2 linked regions of the Homo sapiens genome follow. The protein of the gene in region 1 interacts with the protein of each later gene in a pairwise test. Each region holds a gene or a part of one and is shown on either strand. Other genes may lie near its edges. The genes, in order: FAM221B and LCE2C.

Region 1 (9,419 bases):
AACACTCAGTTAGAAATGACCAGCAGGGGCCAAGCACGGTGGCTCACTCCTGTAATCTCAGCACTTTGGGAGGCCAAGCAGGGCAGATCACCTGAGGTCAGGAGTTCAAGACCAGCCTGACCAACATGGTGAAACCCCGTCTCTACTAAAAATATAAAACTTAGCCGGGCATGGTGGCACACGCCTGTAATTCCAGCTACTTGGGAGGCTGAGGCAGGAGAATCACTTGAACCCGGGAGGCGGAGGTTGCAGTGAACCGAGATTGCGCCACTGCACTCCAGTCTGGGCAACAGAGCGAGACTCCATCACAAAAAGAGAAGAGAAGAGAAGGCCAGCAGGCAGGTGGGTATGAGTGTGAAGTACAGAGGTTGAAAAAGGTCTGAGCTAGAAATGTGAATTTAGGAGTCATTGGTACACAACTGGAAGTAGTTAAAGCTTTGAACATGAATGACATCATTAAGGGAGGAGGATGTGTGTGGTGCCTAGACAAAACCAGGCTGCGTGCAGTGTCTTGCCTTATGTGACAGCATTCCCCTGCACTCTCAGGAGCCAACCCCAACTTTGGCTTGGTATTGCCAGTCTCTAGAACTCCATGGTCTGACCTCCAGGGTTTTAAGATATGCCAAGGACCCTGCTCTTGGACTGCCCAAGTGGTGTTGTTCAGACTCCCTCCTGGGACATGGTTCTCTGCTACCATCTACTGATGGGATTCGAACTACTTCAGTCTTTCAATCTTTAAGTTCCAGCTCCCTAACAAGCCACAGCAGCATGCCATATGAGGTCTGGACACATGGGTGAACCTTTTGGCATCACACTCTAGGACCCAGAGTTCATGTTGTTTCCCTCTTATATCTCAGCTGCACTGATATCCTTATCCAAATTCCATAATGCACTGCGAACCCTGGGCTCTGCCCTGACTTGCCGGCCCTCTATTTCCAACCTAATGAAGCCTGTACCCTGTTCTACCACTAGATGGAAGCACATGAGATCATAGAAGAGCCTCATATCACCATGGATGCAGAGAAGCACCCCCCTTCAAAGGACCCCTCTGCTGAGGACTTACAGGAGAACCATATCTCTGAAAGCTTCTTGAAGCCTTCCACCTCTGAGACCCCGTTAGAGCCCCATACCTCTGAATCCCCTTTGGTGCCATCCCCTTCCCAGATCCCCTTAGAGGCCCATTCCCCTGAAACCCATCAGGAGCCTTCCATCTCTGAGACTCCTTCAGAGACCCCTACCTATGAGGCTTCATTGGATAGTCCCATCTCAGTGGTGCCAGAGAAACACCTTACTCTTCCTCCCCAATCACGAGACTATGTCTGTCTGTCTTCTTCTGATACTCTGAAGGAAGACCTCTCCTCTGAGTCTTCTTCCAATGAGGTCCCATGGACAAGGAGGTCTACCCATCTCTCTGAATCTGAGAGCCTTCCAGAACACTGTCTTTCAGGCCCTTCATCCCAGGTCCAAGTGGACACAACCGAAAAGCAGGAGGAAGAAGCAGGAGAGGTTGAAAAGGGAGTAGATGCCAGTGACAGCACTGCTCACACAGCCCAACCTGGACACCAACTAGGCAAGAAGAAGAAGAAGAAAGGAGTTAGCTGTAATTGTACCTGTCCTCTCCCCTGTCCTGTTCTCACTACTATTCACTGTCCTTGACTTGCCCCAGGAGGAGGAGACTGGGTTACTCTTGGACATGGCCCCTTCTCTTAGTTTTAGGGCCTTCTCACTTCCCCCTGGTTACTCATCCTCTCCCATCCTAGGTAACACAGCCCGCCCAGTGTTCCCTGCTAGGCAGACAGAGCTGGTGGAAGTGGCTAAGGCAATGCATAGAGAGGAGTTTGGTGCTCAAGTGAACAATCTTTTCCAGTGGGAGAAGGATGCAGCCCTGAATGCCATCCAGACAGGTGAGCCCATGTGGCCTTTCAGAGGCCTGTGACAGGCCCATGGGCATCCTCTAATCCAAAAGATCTGGGAACCTGAACATTCAGCAGATAGCTTCCCCTTTTGGAAATGGCTATACCACCTGCCTGGAAAAGGAGCAGGCAAGTGGGCCAAGGAATACAAGGGTGGATGCAGACAAAAAGTGGGGAGATTCATATAAAGCCCAGGTAGAGACAGGTAGCTGAACTAAAATTATTAAACACAGAAGGGTCGGCTGGGCGCGGTGGCTCACGCCTGTAATCCCAGCACTTTGGGAGGCCGAGATGGGCGGATCACGAGGTCAGGAGATCGAGACTGTCCTGGGTAACACGATGAAACCCCGTCTCTACTGAAAATACAAAAAATTAGCCGGGCGTGGTGGCAGGTGCCTGTAGTCCCAGCTACTCGGGAGGCTGAGGCAGGAGAATGGCGTGAACCCGGGAGGTGGAGCTTGCAGTGAGCCGAGATTGCGCCACTGCACTCCAGCCTGGGCAACAGAGCGAGACTCCGTCTCAAAAAAAAAAAAAAACCAAAAAACAAAAAACAAAAAAAAACAGAAGGGTCATGGCCCACCCCAGATATAGGGCCCAGAGAGCCTACAGACCCTAAAGCAGAGATGGCCCAGGACCCTGGACAGTCCCCAGGAGACTTGCTGTTCTGACATGACAAAGACCTTAGTCCCTTTGGTGGAACTCCATTAAAAGGCTGTCACCCCTGCATGCCAGGCCCATGCTGGGTACCCAAAAGCTTTGAGTTCTGTTACCAAAGGGGAGACCTGTGTCCTCTGGCCCTGCTGTTTCCAAGCCTCAGCCTGTGATTAGTACTCTTGACAGTCCTGTTAGTGGCATGCTGCGTACAGATGAACTTGCAAAAACATGCCATCCTATGCATGAGCATGCCTACCTGTGTTATGGAAATTCATGTCTATAGGGATTACCTTCAGTAAGAGGGCCACCCTGACCTGCTATAAGGATTCTGGTCTTTCTAGACTGAATTCAATAGATGTTATGACATTTATTTTGGTCCTTCATACTTCCTTTCCCTTTATGATGGGAATAGAGCTACGATGACAGGCCTAAAACATAAAGACAAGCAGGTAATTCTAAATGCTTATCCCTCCTCCATGAAATTTACTTTCCCCTTTCCCATGCAGGGACCCTCCACCTCCCCACCCTTGCCCTCCCGCCCCACCACCAACTTTGTTTGCTTATGTTAACATATTCGGTTACTCTTATTTTCTTGCAAATTCTGGCTGGCAAGGTGGCTCACATCTGTAATCCCAAAACTTTGGGAGGCTGAGGCAGGAGGATCACTTAATTGCCCAGGAGTTAGACAGTGAGGACAAGACAGTGAGACCCTATCTCTACAAAAATAAAATAAAATAATCCAGACATAGTGGTGCACACCTGTGGCCCCAGCTACTTAGTAGGCTGAGGTGGGCAGATTACTTGAGCCCAGGAGGTCAAGGCTGCAGTGAGCCGTGATTGTGCCAGTGTATTCCAGCCTGGGTGACAGAATGTCTCAAAAAAAAAAATGCAGGATGTGTTCAGTCCTCTTATTCCCCTACTCAGAACCTCCTGTCTACTCCCTACTCCTCAAGCCCACTGTATTTCTTTTTCTTCTTCAAATTGAACTTCTTCATCTTCCTGTTTAAACAGGAAGTTTTATAAAGAAATTCATGTCATTCAACCCCGAACAATTATATTTGAGGTCCCCTCCTAATAGTGGGGATGTTGAGTCCTGGGTAGTCCATAACAGTATATGTGATGTGTACAGAAATATCAAGTGTAACCTTTGTTTTTATTCATTCGACAAACATTTATTGAGCACCAACTATGTGCCAGGCATTGAGCTAGCTATGGAAGTGGTAATGCTGATGGGGGTTCAAAGACAAAATACTTGGCACTCTAATGAGAGATACCAATAAGTACAAGGACAATTATAATTCACTCTAATAATTGCTATAATCAAGGTTATCCTAGACTGCTGCATGAGCAGAAAAAAAAGGGGCATCTTATCTGGAGTGCTTGAGGAATAGTAAGCCTTGGAAGGAATGACTTCTCAGCTGATATCTGTAAGATGAGTAAGAAGAGGTGGCCAAGTAAAGAGTGCTGTAAGATGAGACATGACAGGGCAAGGCACAGCAGGAATCTATAGCAATGCACTATGCCTGATGCATAGAGTGGTGGGGAGAAGAGCCCACTCTGCTCTAGAAGGGCAGAATTGTGCAGGAATTTCTGTGCCAAGTTAAAAGCTAGAATTATATCCTGAGGGCAACTGAGAGTCACTAGAAGGTTTTAAGTAGGACAATAACATGAACGAATTTCTGTTTCTGCAAGATCACTCTGGCAATAGGGTAGACTGGAGAAAGACAAGACTGGAGTTGTGAGGCTAAGAGAGGAGGTATGGAAAGGCAAGTGAATACATTGTGAGGCACTGGTCATAACCAGGAAAGAAGTAGATGGGCTTAGGTGGAGAGAAGTGGACAGGTTCAAGAAATGCTAACAGGCCGAGCGCAGCGGCTACCACCTGTAATCCCAGCACTTTGGGAGGCCAAGGGGTGGATCACCTGAGGCTAGGAGCTCGAGACCAGCCTGGACAACATGGTGAAACCCCGTCTCTATTAAAAATACAAAAAATTAGCCGGGTGTGGTGGCGGACACCTGTAATCCCAGCTACTTGGGAGGCTGAGGCAGGAGAATTGCTTGAACCCAGGAGGTGGAGGTTGCAGTGAGCCGAGGTTGCACCACTGCACTCCAGCCTAGGCAACAGAGCGAGACTCTGTCAAAAAAGAAAGAAAAGAAACAAGAAAAGTAGGGAAAAGAAAAGAAAAGCTAACAAAGTGAAACTGACCATTGGAACAGTGGATGTATAGGATAAGAGAGAGGGAAATGCCTGGAGTGCCACCAGTTTTTGGCATAAGTAAGTGGTAGGATAATGGTGCCATTAACTGAATGCCTAGAAAAGGGTAGATGCTTGGTAGGCATGTGTTGGATGAACAGAGGACAAAGGATGAGAGCCAGGTTTGGAGGGAATAATTGGGCATAAGACATTTGAAGTGCTTATGAAACATGCTGGCCCAAGAGTCTAGTAGACAGCTGGCTATATGGGTCTGAAGCTCAGGAGAGAGGGCTAGGCTGGAGACATTGTTCCTGTAAAGACAGCCATGTGTTTTATGGAGACATACTATGCATAAAGAGATGTCATCATGCAAATGTGATTATGTGATTGTGGAACTGGACTGTGTTAGACAGAATCAAAATGGCATCCCAAATAATGTCTCCTCCCCCGCCAGGCCTTGTCCACCCACAACAGGAAGGGAGTTTGGAATCAGGACAGAGAGTAGAGGGTCCCACTGGAATCCACAGCCACCTTCCAATTGTCCCACTTTAAGAGCACTAACACTTGTAACAGAATCTGAAGTATAGTTGCCAGTCTCCCTGTTCAAACTCCAGTCTTCTTCATCTGAATGCTGGGCACTGATTCCTACACTAGTGCTTGGACTTGACTGCCCCCCGGCCCTCCGAGCAGGCCTTGATCTTTGGGCCTCACCTCCTGCTTTTTTAATGTATCCTGCTACTCCAGACAGAATTCGGAACTCCTCTAGTGGAATCCTGGCTCCCGCCCACCTGCATTGTGACTGCCTATACCTTGCTCTCTCAACAAAGCCTCCCTGGTGTAAGGGGGCACTGGCACTACAGGCAATCAGCATCAAGACAGAAGAAGCAAAGCCAAAAGCCACATCTAGACAGGCTTTAGATCCTGACAGACTATGGGTAAGACAAGAAAACTTAATCTGAGGCACGGAATTGTGAATTGTGGCCCTGACCACAGTCAAAGACCAGATGATGCCACTCTCCTTATTCATGTTATGGAACCTCAGGGTTATGCCTGAATACTGGCTCTCTCTTCCTCTTGAAGGAATGAGCTCAATTGTTTAATCAGGCAATCTACGTTCTCTCAGCAACCATTTTGTGCCAGGCCTTGTGCTAGGATGAGAGATACGGGTGAAAAGACAGCTCCCTTGAAGAACTCATGGACTAATAGGAATACAAGGGAATGATCTATTATAATGCAGTGTACTGCAACAGGAGTAGCACAAGGAGCTATGGATGGCAATAGGAGGGGCCCAGACAGACAGGGGAAGTCAGGGACACCTTTTTGGTGGAGGTGACATTTCAGTTGAGCCTTTAATTGGGACTAAGAATCCTACACCTGGCAGTCCCACTGCATGGGGCCTCATACAGGATTCTTGGCTAGAAGTTGGGGTACTCTCAGTTCTCATGGAGAATGAGAAAATCTGAATTGGAGGTGCCATCTGGTTATCCTCCCTCAGTTGCACAGCACCACCCTCACCTCAAGACTAGTCACGAAGCCAGGGATTCAGACCTCACTGCTGAACACCAGCTCTCGAGGGTTGTGACCTCTTGCTGGTGCCTACTCTCAGGGACACTTCTTAGCCTCACTTTCCTTTCCACGCCTCCTTGCTTAGCCTCAAAATATATAATTTTTGGTCTTCACCACTCATGACTGCTACCTACCCCTTTCTCCTGACCCTTGAAGAACCTTTGGCAGCCCTTCTTAGGTACACAGAGAGCATTGGTACAATAGCACCAGGAACACAGAGGGAGGTATTAAGGTACCAACGTGGAGACGTGAGAGGAAGCCCTCCTCCTACCTTCCAGCACCAGAGCTATCCAACCTCCTTCTCCTCTTCAGGACCTTCAATAAATATGCTCCTTAGGAGCCAATCCCATTGTCTGTACATCTGGCCAATCATCTTCCCTTTCCCTCACCTTAGACACTTCAAGAAAACAAAGCAAAGTTGGGCTTTAGTGGGATGAGGAGAGGAGATGAGAATCCCTGTGGTCACAGAGAACTCAGTGAGATTCATGTTCATCCTCAAACAAAATTTCATCTATAATCTTCCTGCTCAGAAACCACTCTCTTGAGTCATCTCTGGCAGGCTGACAAAGATGGAGTAGATCCTGGGTAGGAAGAGAACTGAAGACACTTCTGGGGTAATGAGAAAACCCTGAGGAAAAAGAAAATCTAAGGGGTAGAGGTGAGGACTTCCAGGTGGAGATAAAGATACCTGGGGGTGGGGAGAGGTAAGTTCCCCCCACCCCCTCACCTCCATCAAGGGATAGGTAAGAACACTTCGGGGGAGCTTAGAATTTTTTTACTTCTCACTTTTAATCCTGCATACCTAGGTCTCTACATTGGCTGGCGCTGCCCCCATTACCTATGGGACTGTTTCCGGATTGGGGATGAGTCCAGATGCTTTTGTGGACACTTGTTGAGAGAGCACCGGATCATCTCAGGTAGGGGAGAACTGACCAGCCCCTCTCGAGTGTGGAGGAATAACTGTACTCTGTCATGTCTTGGGAAGTATGAGAGAGAGCATGTGGCTGGGCACGGTGGCTCACCCCTGTAATCCCAGCACTTTGGGAGGCGGAGGCGGGTGGATCAAAGGTCAGGAGATCGAGACCATCCTGGCTAACACAGTGAAACACCGTCTCTACTAAAAAATAAATAAATAAATACAAAAAATTTAGCCAGGCATGGTGGCACGCACCTGTAGTCCCAGCTACTCAGGAGGCTGAGGCAGGAGAGTCACTTGAAGCCAGGAGGCGGAAGTTGCAGTGAACTGAGATCATGCCACTGCACTCCAGCCTGGGCGACAGAGCAAAACTCCATCTCAAAAAAAAAAAAAGCATGTCTGCGTGCATAGGGGGTGGTGGGGATGGAGGATGGGGTTGGCATGAGAAGGCAAGGTCCTATCAGATTAACCCTACCATCCATCCCCAATCCCACAGACATATCGGTGCCCTGCAAGGTAAGCCAGTGCCGCTGCTTCATGTTCTGCTTTATCCCATCACGCCCAGAGGAGGTGGGTGAGTTCTGGCTCAAGAGACGGGCCACCTTTGACCCCAAGGCCTGGAGGGCCCAATGTCGCTGCAAACACAGCCACGAAGAACATGCAGCCACTGGGCCCCATCCCTGCAGGCATCATGGTAACTTCTAGGGCAAGAGGTGTATTGGGAGCAGGGTAGGTGGGGATAGGATGCAATCTGGGGATAATGATGGAGAGCAGGTATGAGAGCCTTGGGCATGCGGTCACTGAGGAAGAGATGAGAATGTGGTCAGCTCCTGGGGATACCACCATTTCCTAAACTCTTCTTGGCTGCACTTTTGCCCCAGGCTGTTGCTGCGGCTGTTTTGAGTCTAATTTCCTCTGTGCGGCCTGTGACCGGCGCTGGGAGGAACACGAGACTTTCTTTGACACCCAGAAGACCCGGCAACGAGGAGGAAGGCCTCGCGGTGAGGCAGAAACCTGGGACAGGGGGCCATTCCAGGGTCTGTAGTCAGAAGGCCAGGCAGGAAGGCACTCCCATCCTCAACCATCCCTTCCAGGACTAGCGCGCTCCCTCAGCCCACCTCCCCACCACCCACCTACCTGCATCCCACATCTGCACTGGTTTTCACCCCCAGGAGCAGACTATGTACCTTTTGCAGAGATGGCTGTGCTCCGAGAAGCCATCCTCAGCAACTCTGACTTCTAGGCCCTGCAGATACAGGGGCCCTCTGGCCTTCCCAGCTCCCACCCTAGTCCCCCGGGGCTCCCTGGTTCACACGGTCTCCAGCCTGGCCTCCCTTCTGACCCCCATACCTGACCCTTTCACCTCTGCTCTTTCTTCCTCCAGGGACAGACACTGTCAGCAACTGGCACAGGCCTTTGTGAGTCTGGCCCAGATCAGCAATAAAAGAGGAGTCATTGGAACCTGACTTGGCTCTATATGGGGCAGGTAGATCCCAGCCCAGGGAGAGACTGCCTAATAACTTAGAGTTGACACCTATTAGACACAGGAGAAAGCCTGGATCTGGCCATCTGCCTCCATCACACTCACATTCAAGCTGCCTGTTGAAGGAAAGTGGCTTCAAGGAAGTCAAGAAGGGAGGAAGTTTCAAGAAGGATAGAGTGGGAAGTGATGTTAGATGCAGTTGGGGCACCAATAAGATAAAGACTGAAAAGTGTCCATTGGGTTTTGCAATTAGAAGATCTTTGGGAACATCGGAGAGTGCAGTTTCACACTGGTGCAGTGGAGGCAGGAGTCAAACAGCAGTGAGTTTCAAGGAGTCTCTTAAAGAAGCTTGGATGAAAAGTACAAAAGTAAAGTCAGACAATATCCAGAGGGAGTTGTGGAGTCAAGGAAGTACTTTTGTAGGAAGGAAAAGGGGAAGAGGCCAGTAGACTAAAGGACCTTGAAGGACCCAGAAGAGAGAGAAGAGATGCCTGGTGAGACAAGATCCCAGAGATGGAGGAAAGGGATGAGGTCAAAGCAGAGGTGAAGGGATTTTCTCTGGACAGGAGAAACACCACTTCCTATGACCAAGACGAAGGAAGAGGATGGAGCCTTCCTAGAGTTTCAGGGAACAAGAACCTGTGGAAGTTCCCCTCTGATGGCTTCTATATGCCCTGTGAAGTAGGAGATAAG
Region 2 (15,751 bases), on another chromosome or scaffold:
TACTTCCCCATCTTTCCCTGAGGTATAGGTTGAGTGGAGTTGTGCTTTTGGGTCAAATGCCTCCGTGTGTGTGTGTGTGTGTGTGTGTGTGTGTGTGTGTGTATACATGCATACATACATGTGTGTACAATGATAAAAATAACAGAAAGTAATATAATAACTGATGTTTACTGACCATCTATTTTTTTCTAGGTATTATTTAAGTGTTTTATACACATTATCTCATTTAATCCTCATACTAATCATGTGATGTAGGTGGTATTAATATTCCCACTGTACTAATGAGAAAACAAAGGCTCCTAGAGCTAAACAAATAGCCCAAGTTCACACAGCTGGGAATAAAGTTCAGAAAATTTAACCAAAAAAATTTCAATTATTTTAGTATAATGTCAACAGGTTTCTGACAACAAGTTTACACACAGCATAGATACACTACCATACACACACACACACACACACACACACACACTCACACACACAATGTCAGACCATCTGTCTAGTCCAGATTGTCAATTATTTTGTTTGGTGGGATGAATTTTCCAGATAATTTATAACTATGCTTTCTAAATCCCTCTCCCATACCAATTCCCTGCCAACATTGTCTGTGTACCTCTCTTATATGCAATATCTATGCACTTACTTCTTAATCAAAACCAAGACTGAACCCATCGTTTTTCATGACCCAGACAGCACTATTTATAGGCTATCATGGGAGAAAATTATGTTAATTACATATGATCACTACACACACACACCAACACCCTCACTGCCTATGTCCATTTATATCCAGTATTTCTTTCTAATCATTGGAATTAGAAGAATGTCAGTGTTAGATGAATAGTGCACATTAATTAAATATTCTATTTGCAATCACTGCATATCCATGCCTTAGGATTCCCTGGAGCAAGGAACTTTTCCAAGAATTCTGTGCTGAGCAAATTAGGTAACTATTAAGCAGTTCTTACAAGAGTAAATGAGAGAAGGATATGATCAGATGAATTAAAAGAAAAGAACATCTCTAAAGAGAAAACAATTTGAGGATTTTCTTGGACTGTCTCCCATTAGTAAATTCAATAATCAGAGTTTATTAATTCACTCTTATACACACTCAGCAAGTATTGTTGACTATGTGGCCAACTCTGGGGATACTACATGATATGAAAGGAATATAATATCTGCCCACTGTGACTATATTCTTCAGAAAGGAGGGAGGGACGTGGATGAAGAGGGCATGAGAAATAGAGGCTCATTTTATGCAGTGTGGGAACTAACACAGAAACATTAGTATATCAGGCAAGAAAAGAAGGGAATAGCTGTTTTAAGTCTAGCTTGTTGAGAAGAACTTACCATAAGCTGTTTGAATTTCACACACAGTAAATAGTGCATGCCTTCCCAGTTTAACTCCAGAGAACTTGTTGAGACCACAGAATGTAGTTAAATCACCTAGATTTGGATTCTGAGAACAAGTTACTTGCCTTAAAGCCTTAGAAATGTGCCCGAAATTGTCTGTGCATCTGTCTTTTCATCTATGAAGTGTGGAAAATAGCTGTAATTTCCTAACAGCAATATTGTGTGAATTAATTGTTATTTTGGTTGAGTTACACCTGAAACACTTATAAGAGTGCATATCTTATAACTAGCACAAAAGTTTAGAATTACATAGTTTTACTCTTTCTGTACATAGTTCTGAATTAGGTGTGAAGATGGAGCAATGCAACCAGCGTGGGGGTGGACTAGGATTGAAATCTGACCTAGCAAGGTCAAGGAGCAACCATGAAATGGTAACATGGGGAATTTCTTTCTGAATATTAGTGGGTTTGCCAATTATTTACAAGCAGAAGGAGAATTGTTTAGAAAATGAAAAGTAGCCTTATTCTAGTTTACACATGTGTTCTGTTCAGCTGAATTCACTTCCAGCTGAACTCATGTTAAGATATCCTGCCAACTGAGCCAGCAACAGTAAGAGTCCCTCCAAGAGCCGGCCAATATGCTGGTCCCTCAGGCTCTGGAGTTTTTCTTAGCACTGGGGTTAGTGTTGGTCCTGCTCTGGGAGCAGCTGCTCCTGGAGTTAGCACAGGCAAAACACAGTCAGCAGACCTTGGCTGCAGAGCTGTTGCAGCAGCAGCGACAGAGCCTGGAGAGTCAGTGAGAGAGCAGCGTCGCAGCTCTCGGGCACTGCTGTGGATCTCAGAGGGTCCGAGTTGAGATAACCACACACACAAGCATCCATCCTGGCCCAAAACTCCTTTCTACTCTACCCTATTCCTGGGCTGACCCTCTGGGGACTCAAGAGGGTGACCAGGTAGAATTTTTCATTCGATGTGGAGGTGAAAGTGCTCTCTGGGGATTCTGGCCCAGGTGACAATCTATCCACCTTTTCCTTTTCACAATGTGTTCTGGTTACTGTTGACTCTCCTCACTTGGGTCATATTTCAGATAACCCAGAGTTAATCATCTGTCACCCTCCCACTCTAGATACCTTTGAAAGAGATGCAGCCATAACACCAAGTATGGTTTCTGATTGGACAGCACACTTCTTCTCAGAGCCTCACCCTCCTCCTGCCCTTGAGAGATGATCCAGACCCCTGATCCTTGGCCCACTTCTGGGTGATGGGTGGATTAGAGGTGGGGAGACAGGAGGCAGAAGTAACCTGGAGCCTCCGCCAGGCTTCCATAAGCCAGGTCTTGTGCCTGTCTCCAGGGAGCCCCCCAGAGCACTCCAGACCTCAGCTGCAGGCAGTGAATTCCCCTGCCTAATCAACCTTCCAGGCAGATTTGCCTCAGTGCATACAGCAGAGACCATAAAGGTGGAAACGTGGGCAGGACGTTCCTGAATGTTGCATTAAGAGGTAAGTGAAGTGTACCCAGAGAGTCTGTGTCGCTATTTCCAGAAACCAGCAATCCAGCTGTCTTTACTCAGCAGGTTGAACTATATCAAGAACTACTTGATTGGATGTGTACGCAATGTGCGTGCTCCACTTCATTCTTAACTTACATCTTTAAATTTTGTCCAGAACCACACCATGTCCAGATATCAAAATTTATACTTCTCTATCCCTTCTGTACATACAAGCAGCCAGTGAGATTTAGGAAATTGTTGGGACTTTAGGAAAGCTCAGGTAAGAGGCTCTATTGGGATCAGGACCTTTCACCCACCCTTTCTCTTTCTTCAGACCTGAAGTACAGCGTTGCAGATCAGAACTCCATCAGGCATCTTGAGATCACCAACTGTTTCTCAGGAAATAAGCACTAATAATGAAATGACAAGACAGAGGGGTATCCATCTCTGAATACTCCAGGGAACCACCATACCAGCCATGGACTACTGACCTCTGACTTAATCACATGTGAGTGGAAATAGCCTGCTCTCCTCTTTAAATTGCTGTGATTTTGAGTTCCTGTGATAGTAGCAGAACTTAATTTCTAACACACATGCACACATGCCAAACATAAGATAAGATGCAAGTAAAAACCAATAGTCAGATTGGAAATTATTCTGTGTATGGAAGTTTAGATAAGGAAAGGATTATGTTCACCATGAAAGGAGCACATGGAGCCCCAGATAGCAGGCCCACTGGAGAAGGAAAGGGCCGGTGAGTTGCTCTTACTTAAGGCAGAGGTCCCTGAAAGCATACTCGGGTGTCCACCCCTCCGCAGGCCAGCCTTCACCTGCCCCAGGCAACCTTAGGTCCCCCGCTTGGTGTTCCATTTTATACTGTTTGGGTTTTTTTATTTGTTTTGTTTGCTGACATGTAAACACTAAGGACAAGGAAAAACTTCTTAACCAACTCAGGAAACCCTGAAGCTATGAAAGCAAAGAAAGTCATATTTGAGTATTTAAAAACTACAAATATTTCCATAGCAAAAGTTATTATAAACAGAGTCAATTAATTATGATGTATTAAATATTTTAATAAAGACAGATCAAGGTTAATATCCATGATATATCAAGAGCTCTTGAAAATTGAAAAGAAAATTTAAAATCCTATTACAAATTTTGTAGAAATAGCCAATGTACATATTTATGGAAGCTCAAAATTACTACTGGTCAGGGACTTGAAAATTAGTTAATAATGAGACTGGCAAAATAATAAAGAGCATTGAGTCAAATAAACTGACTCAGTGCAGAGGGTGATTTAAAATGCAGACAGTACAGAATCTCAAACTGGTTAATCAGCTGGGTTTTTGTCTTAGTGGCACTAAGGGTAAGTAAGAAGGTAAACATATTAATAAGAGGCTCCATCTCTGTCAAAATCCGTCTTTGCTGAATCCATTATCTTCATGTCGACACCTGTCAGCCTGAACCTAAGAAGCACTAGCCCTTGTTTCCCCTGCTGTGTCCCTGCTTCCCTCCCCTTCCTCTAGTAATACTTAAGATGCCCCACCCATCCTGGCGCTTCTCCCCCCTCACATTCTGAGGGTGGCTTGGCAAAAAAGATAAGTATTGAAGGAGGAAAGGTCTATTCTTTCATACAGCGTTTTGTATTCTTTGTATTCTTATGTTCCTTATATTCTTTGTATCTTCTAAGCAACACTTCCATGTTTTTTCACTTAATATCTCCATCACTCATCACTCCCCTGCCCAGCACGTGAGCCAAGTGGCAGGACAGCATCCTGGGACTCAGATCTAACACTGTGAGGAACTGAAGCCAGGTGTCCAAGGCAGCAAGTCAAAAGGCTGATCTTAACCAGACTCATGAAAAGAAGCTGAGTGACCATGGGCTGTACTTTACAGGAGGAAGGGTCTCAACATCTGTTTCAAGCATTTTATCCAACTATTGATTCTAAGGGCAGGAAAGTTTTGCTTCATAGGGATGTGTTCTTCTCCCTAGAGAAGAACAAGTCTGCAGAGCTTCCCAACCTTCCCAACGTCTGGATTACACAGAAAATTAGAACATGTGTCTGGCTTAGTGGAGAGAAAGGCAAAGCTACCATAGCCAGAGGTGACCCTCTTGGAGCTCCATTCACTCAGCATCTGGGGGAATCAGTTCCTCAGAGCAGCTTTTCATGTATCACCTACTCATGTCCTGTCCTAGCCTCATGAAGAAAATTACTCTGAGGCCCTGACCTTTGGAGGACATTTGAAATCTCAGAAGAGAAGAGAATGACCAAGACATTTAGTGAGTCAGAGATCAGAGCTTTATTATAACATGAGGTAAAGGAGGAAAAGAAGACTTGCAATTGGGGTGTTACATCAAGCACGAAGTTCTTCCAGGAAAGCCCCATGAGTCTTTGTGGTCTCTGCCAACCAATGAATGGAATGAGAGGAAGTGGAAAGAGTATCCATCAGGCCGTAGCAGGTTCTTGGCCATTCAGTCCCAAGAGCTCTTCTGTAGCCCAGGTCAGCAGCAGCCCCCAGAGCTGTGGCAGCAGCCAGAGCCCCCAGAAGGTTCACTCTCACAGCAGTCGGGGCTCTGGTGCCGGCGCCGGTGGAAGAGACGGGGCCTGTGGTGGCTCAGGGAGCAGCCACCAGCCCCAGAGCTGCAGCAGCCCCCAGAGCTGGGACCACAGCAGCTCCCAGAGCTGGGACCACAGCAAGAAGAGACTGCAGGGAAACATGGAGCTGGGCACTGTGGTGGGCATTTGGGGGGACACTTAGGTGGACATTTTGGGGTACACTTGGGAGGACACTTGGGAGGGGGCTGGCACTGCTGCTGGTTTTGCTGGCAAGACATGCTGGCAGGAGTTTAGTCAACCTGAAAGATAATAATGAAACTCTTTAAATATTTCAAACCAAGGATCATATTATACCTCTTCTAAAATCAATGCATGTGTAGAAGAAGAATGATATTTAGATAATACAATCACATCAGTAACCTGAAAGAAACAACTTGAATCTTTCCTCTAGATAAAAGTACGTAGATAAAAAATCAACAGAATGAGCTTCTTACTCTTCCTTTCAGGGGAAACTGCGATTGCTCTATCCTCACAAGCCCGAATAGAGTATTCACAGCTCCCTGAAGTACCTATTCCTTTAATACAAGCCCTAAGGACAAGCTGGGTGTTGCAGGACATACCAAGGGGTCCTCTGGAAAATATTTTGCAATGAAACCTCCAGATAAAAGAGCCTGGCTTGAAGTATTTGCCAGTTTCCATGGTGTAAATATGCCCAACACAGCAGTTTTGAAGTTACCAACATGAAGTCACTGAACACAGAATTGGAAAAGATGTGCACAGTTAGCTTTCCCCACCTATATGAGCTCCGGTAGGCCTCAGAGCCTCAACAGATTCGAGGCAGGCTGAGTCCCATTCCTGCTCAGTATGGCAGAACACAAGCACACAACTCTTTCTCCAGCCTACCTCCATCCTCCCCATCCCTCTGCCTTGCTCATACCCCTCTGGTATCCCAGGTTGCCACTCACCCTGGTCACACGCAGGAGCACAGACACGTCCCTGGGGAGTCAGAGCAGATGAGATGCTGAAGCTGGATGTGTCTTTTATAGGGCCCAGGCTTGGCTCTGGAAAGAGCAGGAGGTGGCTCTTGCACAACCAGGCACACGCTGGGTCATTCCTGACATTCTCCTGCCTCTTAGTCCCTGCAATCCAAAGAGGCCTCAGGAGCTTCCAGGACTCCTCTCTGGGGCTGCAGTCTAGAGAGGCTGTAGCCAGTCAGAGCCTCCACCAGGTGGGAACCCTAAAGAGTTAACTTAGGGTACCCAAGGGACCCACACCTGGACAAGATTCTGTTCCCTGCATTTTTTTAATGCATGTCCTCTGAGGAAACATCAGTTCTGAGCCACAGCTTTCCCTGACCTTGTGGAAATGTTCCATTATGACTCCCTCCACCCTGAGCAGTTTCTCTTCCATGTCCTGCTGTGGATCCAGCCATCCCAGAGGGCTTCTACAGCCTTGGCTTTTTCTAGGCATCCCTCCCTTGCCTAGGCTCTCAGCCCTTCCTCCTGGCCTCTGTGTTTCTGCTTTTCCTCCGACTCACCATGGCAAGCAGATTCGGTGGATTAAATCTGAGTTGATTCTGTCACCTAAAGCAAGGAGAATGATTGAGAATAAACAATTCCCTCTAAAATCTAAACATTTCCTTCAGTCAGAGGACTTGTATTGAATGTGCTACTGGAATCAGAAAACTTGCATATGATAACTGGGTAATCTCTGAAAGTTGCTGTAACAATTATCAATAATTGCTAGAGTATTACTATGATACTCACTGTGAGTATCAGTTCTCACATATAATGCCCATTATAAACCTATCAGTGAGATATACCTATCTCACTGAGCTGTTTGTAATATAAAGTGAGAAGCAAGAAAGAGCTAAGTATGACATTTTGTGCCTGATAGACCCTTAATAAATATATGTTTAATAGAAAAACTAATGCCATGTATTGGATACTTGCCCCGGTCTTATGTGTCATTAATTGCCCATATAGAGCCCTTACCCTCAGAGAGCTTAACTCCACCAGACACTTAGATTATTTGAAACCTGTCTTGGGAAGTAGACATCATTTCTTGGGGCTCCTATGCAGAGGGAACTCCTTTCCTACCAGGAAGTAGAGGGTCAGCCAGGAATCTAGTTATTCAGAGTTCTGATTCAGGGTTGCACTAGACAGAGTTACCCAGTCATTTATTCATTTAGTTTAAACAGATACATTGAGTGTGAACCTTGAAAACATTACACTACGTGAAAGAAGCCAGTCACAAAAGACTGCATATTGTATGATGTTATTTATATGAAATGTGTAGAGTAGGCAAATCTCTGGAAATAGAAAGGGGATGAGGCTTTAGCCAGTTACAGCCTCTCCCAGGCTGGACCCCTGAAGAGCTGACTCAGGGCATCCGAGGAACAAGAGCCTGGATGAGATTCTGTTCCCTGTATCTCCTTTTATGTTTATGCCTGTCCTCTGAGAAATATCAGTGGCTTCCAGGTGCTTTAGCGGGCTGGGAGATATTGAGAAGTTACTGCCAATGGATACAGGTTTTCTTTGTGAAGTAATGAAAATGTTCTAAAATTATGGTGGTGATTGTCCAACTCTGTGAATATACTGAAAACCATTGAATTTACACTTTAAACAAATGAACTACAAATATGTTAATTACATCTCAATAAAGGTGTTAAAAATTAGAATTGAAAAAAATAGATATTCACACCTCTGATTAAAACAGAAACAGACTGTGCCTTCACATTGCCTAATGCCTACTTAGTGGGGGAGGGGAGGATGCGGAGAAAGCATAGTTTCCCATTGTCAGCTTCTAACTGAGGGATTCTGTTCTCCTAGTTATGCAATCCTATTATCAGATCTGATTCCTGCTCTCAGGAAGCTTTTACCTGAAGGATAAAGTAAGTCAACAGTGTGGTCAGAGCAGTGAATTCAAAAGGCATTCTTTGAAAGCCTACAACGTTCTTGAATCATGTATGTCCAAATATAGGGATATAGAGGTGAATAATAAGTAGCCCATGACCTCAAGGACTGTAGAATTTTTGTAGCCTTTTTGAAGATGACTGCAGACAAACATAGGTCCAAAGAAGATGACGTTTGGGGCCTGAACCTCCTGAGTCACTATTTCCCAGTGTGATTAGAACATGTTAGTTCATTCCACTGTCTTCATGGTGATATCACCCTCAGCTTCCTCATACTCTTTGACAAAGATATTTGTAACAATGTGGTAAGTGAGGAAGTAGGGGAGGCAAGTCTGTGTCTGTGTGTGTGTGTATGTGGGTGTGTGCTCTGTATGTGTGTATGTTGTATTTATACAAAAATTCAGGTAAAATGAACATGCACATACATGAGCGTCTGTATTGAGTGGTTGAATAAGCGATGGAAGAATTAATGGGACCCGATCCCCTGGGAAACCAGAACTGGGAGATAAGCAGCTGTTTAACATGTCCCCTTTGTCCCTTTATATCTCAGAAAATGTTGATAATTAGTTCACAAGTCAGTGAAGAAACACCTGCCTGCAAGTATTCTTGCTTCTGTCTCCACAGCCCTCACATCATCATAGGTGATCCCTCTGAGCCAGAAGACCCCATGTCACATTGTGCATGTTCCCTCAGGGACCAGCCAAACACTTAATTGTCTCATGAGTGTTGGCAGAATCAATGCATGATTGCAGGACCACATGAACAAGTACACAGGTGACATGAAAAGAATGGCCTGGGATTGATTCCAGACATTTCATCTGAAGTTCACCTCATCTGGAAAGTCAGTCTCCTGAAAGCTGATATTTCCAAGTAGCTCCTTGAATTGTCTCCCTGGGAACTTAAACTCCGTATATTCCAGAAAATTATCCCCCACCAAATGCTGGAACTTTATTTTAGCCACAGTACAAGAAAAAGCCTTACCATGTCCCTTGATGTATCTCATCTTATTTAGTAGATTCACTAATCCAAATTTTCCGTTTACTATATCTTTGTAGTCCTTTTCATCTTCTTGTCAACACTGTCTGGCACTGTCTGATTTTGGCCCAGTTTCCACTCCTGAAAGGGTATGTGTGGAGATAAGGGTTTATTGAATTGTAATTTCCAAAAAGTTAAAAGCATGACTCATATAAATATATAGCAGGCATATTATAAAGATTTGTTTCACTTGTTAATAAGAGAATCAGCATGATGGTAATGCTGGTTCAAAGAATAGGAGAGACCAAAAAAATTCTGGAACAAGATTGCAAATTTAGATACAAAACTGGTTAAAGTTTTCAAAGGCAATGAAACCATTAGGTTAAATTTTCTAGAGCACACAAAATAATTTTCAACTTACAAATCTTCTATAATTTAAATCTAGCTTTACAGTGTCTGGGCCTTGATCAATACCAAATACATTAAGTAAAATCATGCCACCATTTTTTTTAAAAACCTAGAGAGTCATATACACCTTAGGCAAGGTTGTTAGTTACTAGGAAGAAGTAAAAATTTAAAAGACTAATCAGAAATCACTTTTTTGCTTAATTTTAAGTTTTGGATAAGTTTAACCCCCAATTTCCTAACAAGAGATGGTTTCTCAGAAACTGGGGCTTCAAAACCCAGGTCCAGAATGGGTTCTTGCTGAAGTCATATTGGCTGATGGACATCAGAGGGGCATGAATTCCAGGCAGAGAGCTGCTGGAGAATTCACGTGTCGTGGTCCTGCTAGAGCTGGGACTCACTTCAGATCTTGGTATTAGCATAGCTTATAAGAGATGTCCCAACACTGCCCCGCATCTGTTTTGCCTCATCTGGGACATGCCATTTTCCTTGCCTGGTTACCAGGGTGAGTTTGCCAGGGGGAGCCATCAAACTGGCTCTCAGCAGAACCATATGGGAGTCTTAAGAGCAACACCGGGAGTATGGAATATGAAAGGAGAAGACGGCCCAGTGATAGGGAGGAGCACAGCAGAGGGGTGTCCTGGGCAAAGCAAGAATTGGCCTGTCTAGTTTGTACATACATGTTTATATGACCTGAAGAGGATGGATTTTATACTTAATTCATCAATTCCATGATACACTCTTCTTACATTTTTTAACAGCCCTTAAATCAGTGTATACCATATGAATGGTGGCATGTAATAGTTGAATTTGCAAAATTTTTATTTCCTTGTGGTGCATGAAATAAGGGTGCCCCTTACAACTGATAGCCTCTTTACGCTCATGAAATATAGTAGGTAGTAAATGGGTCTGTAGATATGAAATGAAATGATGAGAGACAGAAATTGACATTGATTTAGCATTAGTTCTGTTTTCAGAAATGTCACTTCTAACACTTTTAACTTGGGGTTATATGGTTCTTCATAGGTACTATTAGATACTAATGTATTTTATAAACTGTCTGCCAGCACACCATGAATAGGTTTAAAAGGGCAAAATTATGCCCATATTGGCTCTAATTTATCTGACTTATTGCTCGATTCATTTTCAAACTCAGATACCTTGCCAAAACACCACCAGTAATGCCAATGCCTTTAAAGAGCCCTTCACAGTGCCACTCCAGTGCACAGCCCATGTTCACCTCCAGTTCTTCTTGTGTGACTGACCCCGCATGGGAAGCAGCTACAGCTTCATCAGCTCCCAGAGTTCCAGCTACCGTGCAGTGGTCAGCAGCCTTGTCTGTGCTGTACTGACTACACCTCTGTGGAACCAAAGTGCAAAGGCCAAGGGCCTCCCCAGCCACATGCTGCACTCCCTCCCTCCAGTCCTCCTAACATCACAGCCTTGTTGAGACTCATGGGGTTACCAGGTAGAAGGTTCTGTTTTCCCAATATTCTCCAAAGGTCTGTCCAGAAATTTGCCTTTATCCTAAGTGAAAATAAAACCATCATGGCATGTTCTTAGTGTGTCCTGGTCACTGCTGACCCTCTTCTGTCAACAGAAGACCTCTTCTGTCTGTTGGATCATATCTCTAATGACCTCCATGTATCCTCTCAGTCTCTGTGATGGTTAATTTTGCCTAGGCTATCCTATGATATCCAGTTGTTGATCAAACACCAGTCCAGATGTTGCTTTGTATGCATGTAATCAGTAGACTGACTAGGTTGATTATCTTTCCTAACGTGAGCCTCATCCTATCAGCTGAAGCCTTTAATAGCAGAGACTGAGGTTTCCAAAGAAGAAGAAATTATCATCAACACTGCCATATAGAAACTCTGCCTGTTTCCAGACTACTGCCTTGCAGAATTTAGACTCAAGGCTGCAACATCAACTGTTACCTGAATTTCCAGCCTGCTGGCCTGCATAATCATCACAATTATCATGCGATGATTGTGGGGTCTGGCAAGATTTCAGACTTGCCAGCCCCCACAGTCATCACATTAGCCAATCTCCTAATATAAACTTATCCCTCCATCTCTTCTATTTCTCTGGAAATCTCTAACTAAAACAGTTCTCCTTACCTCCATGTCTTCCCCTGAGGTATACATTGAGTGGAACTGTACTTTTGGGTCAACTGCCTCCATATGTATATATACATATATACACACACATCTGTACAAATGATAAAAATAACAAAATGTAATATAATAACTGATGCTTATTGACCACCTATTTTGTTCTAGGTCCTATTTAATTGTTTTATATACATTATCTCATTTAATCCTCATGCCAATTCTGTGATGTAGGTAGTATTAATATCCCCACTATACTAATGAGAAAACAAAGACTCCTAGGACTAAACAAATAGCCCAACTTCACACAGCTGGGAATAAAGTTCAGAAAATTTAACCAAAAAAGATTTTGAGAACTTTAGTATAAGGTCAGCAGGTTTCTGAGAACAAATTTACACACAGCTTAGATACAGTACCATACACACACACACACACACACACACACACACACACACACAATGTCAGACCAACTGTTTGGTCCAGATAGCCAATTATTTTGTTTGGTGGGATGAATTTTCCAGATTATTTATAACTATGCTTTCTAAATCTCTCTCTCATACCAAGTTCCTGACAAACTCATTGTCCATGTAACCTCTCTTTTATGCAATATCTGTGCACTTACTTCCCAATCAAAACAAAGACAGAACCTATAGTTTTTCATGACCCAGACAGCACTATTTATAGGTTATCACGGGATAAAACTATGTTAATTACATATGATCCCTTCACACACATACACCAGTGCCCACACTGCCTATGCCCATTTGTATCCAGTATTTATATCATTTTAATCACTAGAATTAGAAAAATTTTAGTGTTATATGAATAGGTTACATTAATCAAATATTATAATTGCAATCACTGTCTATCCATGCCTTGGGATTCCCTGGAGCAAGGAACTATTTCCAAAGACTCAGTACTGAGCAAATTAGGTAAACATTAGACAGCCTTATGAGAGTAAATGAGAGAAGGATATGATCAGGTGAATTAAAAGAACAGAACATCACTAAAGAGAAAAAAAAACTGAGGATTTTTTGGGACTGTCTTCCATTAGTAAGTTCAATATTCAGAGTTCAAAAATCACTCTCACACACACTCAGCATGTATTGTTGACTATGTAGCAAACTCTGGAGTACAACATGATATAAAAGAAATATAATCTCTGCCCACTGTGACTATATTCTTCAGAAAGGACAGAGGGACATGGGTGAAGAGAAAGGTATGAGAAATCGAGATTTCTTTTGTGCAGTATGGGAACTAGCCCAGAAACATTAGTATACCAGGCAGGAAAATTAGGGGATAGCTGCTTTAAGTCTAGCTTGTTGAGAAGATCTTACCATAAGCTGTTTCAATTTCACACATGGTAAATAATGCAGGCCTTTCCAGTTTAACTCCAGAGAACTGGTTCAGATCACAGACTAAGTAGCTATATCACCTAGAGTTATATTCTGAGTACCAGGTACTTGCCTTAGAACCCTAGAAATGTTCTCAAAGTTGTCTGTACCTCTGTTTTCTCATCTATGAAGTGTGGAAAATAACTGTAATTACCTAATAGCAACATTGTGTGAATTAATTGATCCTTTGGTTGAGTTACACATAAAACACTTATAAGAGTACGTATCTTATAACAAGCACAAAAGTTTAGAATTACCTAATTCTACAATTACTGTACAGAGTTCTGAATTAGGTGTGCAGCTGCAGCAATGCAACCAGCATGGGGGTTGACTAGGATTGAAATCTGACCTAGCAAGACCAAAGAGCAACCATGAAATGGTAACACGGGGAATGTCTTTCTAAATATTAATGGCTTTGCCAATTAATTAGAAGCAGAGGGATAATTGTTTAGAAAAAGCAAAGGTATCCTTATTCTAGGTTTACACATGTGGTCTACTGCTGAATTCACTCTCAGCTTAACTCATGTTGAGATATCCTGAAAACTGAGCCAGCAGCAGGCTTCCTCCCAAGAGCCTGGCAATATGCTCATCCCTCAGTCTCAAGTTTTTCTTAGCACTGGAGATACTGTTCTTCCTACTCTGGGAGCAGCTGCTCCTGGAGTTAGCATGGGCACCACAGAGCCAGCTGACTTTAACTGCAGAGCTGCTGCAGCAGCAGCGACAGAGCCTGGGGAGTCTGTGAGAGAGCAGCGCCGCAGCTCTCGGGCACTGCTATGAAATCTCAGAGGGTCCGAGTTGAGATAACCACACACTCAAGAATCCATCCTGGCCCAAAACTCCTTTTCTACTCTTCCCTCTTCCTGGGATGACCCTTTGGGGACACAAGAGAGTGACCAGGTAGAATTTTCACTCGATGTGGAGGTGAAAGTGCTCTGTGGGGATTCTGGCCCAGGTGACAATACATCTACATTTTCCTTTTCATAATATGTTCTGGTTACTGTTGACTATCCTCACTTGGGTCATATTTCAGATAACCCAACTCAGAGTTAATCATCTGTCACCCTCCAACTCTAGATACCTTTGAAAGAGATGAAGCCATAACACCAAATATGTTTTCTTCTTGCACACTTCTCAGAGTCTCACCCTCTTCCTGCCCTTGAGAGATGATCCAGACCCCTGGTTCTTGGCCCACAGCTGGGTGATGGATGGATTAGAGATGGGGAGACAGGCAGAAGTAACTCTTAGCCTACCCCAGGCATCCATAAGCCAGGTCTTGTGCCTGTCTGCAGGGAGCTCCCCACAGCACTCCAGACCTCAGCCTCACCAGGGAATTCCCCTGCCTAATCAACCTTCCATGCAGGCTTGCCTCAGTGCATACAGCAGAGCCCATGGAGGTGGAACTGTGGGCAGGATGTTCCTGAATGTTTGTGTTAAGAGGTAATTGAAGTGCACTCAGAGAGTCTGTGTCACTATTTCGAGATAACCAGCAATCCAGCTGTCTTTACTCAGCAGGTCAAACTGTATAGAAAATTACTTAATTGGATAGTGCCCAACATACATGCCCCCTTCATTCTTAACTTATATCTTTAAATTTTGACCAGAACCAAATCATGTTCAGATATCAAAATTTACACTTCTCCATCCCCCTTGTATGTACAAGCAGCCAGTGAGATTCAGGAAATTGTTGGGACTTTAGGAAAGCTCAGGTAAGAGGCTTTACTGGGGTCAGGGCCTTTTACCCACCCTTTCTCCTTCTTCCTACCTGAAGCACAGCCTTGCAGATCAGAACTCTATCAGGCACCTCGAGATCACCAACTACCTCCCAGGAAACAACTGCTAACAATGAATTGACAAGACATAGGGGTATCCATCTTTGAAGACTCCAGGGAACCACCGTACCAGCCATGGACCACTGACCTCTGACTTCATCATATGTGAGTGGAAATAGTCTGCTTTCCTTTTTAAATTGCTGTAATTTTGAGTTCCTCTGATAGCATCCGAACATAATTTTCTAACACACCTGCACACATGCCAAACACAAAGTAAGATGCAGCTAAAAACAAATGTTAGAATGGATAAAGAAAATATGGCACATATGCACCATGGAATACTATGCAGCCATAAAAAAGGATGAGTTCATGTCCTTTGGGGGGACATGGATGAATCTGGAAACCATTATTCTCAGCAAACTAACACAGGAACAGAAAACCAAACACTGCATGTTCACAATCATAAGTGTGAGTTGAAAAATGAGAACACATGGACACATGGAGGGGAACATCACACACCAGGGCCTGTCAGTGGGTAGGGGGCTAGGGGAGGGATAGCATTAGCAGAGATACCTAATGTAGTTGACAGGTTGATGGGTGCAGCAAACCACCATGGCACGTGTATACCTATGTAACAAACCTGCACGTTCTGCACATGTATCCCAGAACTTAAAGCATAATTTAAAACAAAAAAAGTTAGATGGGAAATTATTCTGTGTATGGAGGGTTAGATAGAGAAAGGAAGTTGCTCACTATGAAAGGAGCACATGGAGGCCCAGATAGCAG

What was found.
Region 2: the proteins of FAM221B (region 1) and LCE2C interact in binary tests that used the Homo sapiens proteins (3 or more experiments, as listed by UniProt).

The regions. Positions count from the first base shown.
Region 1 is NC_000009.12:35,817,715-35,827,133, reverse strand, and holds part of FAM221B (protein FAM221B), read left to right. Parts: intron 1-196; exon of another isoform or gene 197-342; intron 343-972; coding exon 973-1,570; coding exon of another isoform or gene 1,571-1,600; intron 1,601-1,760; coding exon 1,761-1,904; intron 1,905-5,505; exon of another isoform or gene 5,506-5,692; coding exon of another isoform or gene 5,693-5,696; intron 5,697-7,133; coding exon 7,134-7,244; intron 7,245-7,739; coding exon 7,740-7,937; intron 7,938-8,124; coding exon 8,125-8,244; coding exon of another isoform or gene 8,245-8,288; exon of another isoform or gene 8,289-8,627; coding exon 8,628-8,665; coding exon of another isoform or gene 8,666-8,687; 3' UTR 8,688-9,419.
Region 2 is NC_000001.11:152,665,940-152,681,690, reverse strand, and holds LCE2C (late cornified envelope protein 2C), read right to left. Parts: upstream 6,413-15,751; 5' UTR 6,363-6,412; intron 5,697-6,362; 5' UTR 5,676-5,696; coding exon 5,343-5,675; 3' UTR 5,122-5,342; downstream 1-5,121. UniProt on the Homo sapiens protein: Precursors of the cornified envelope of the stratum.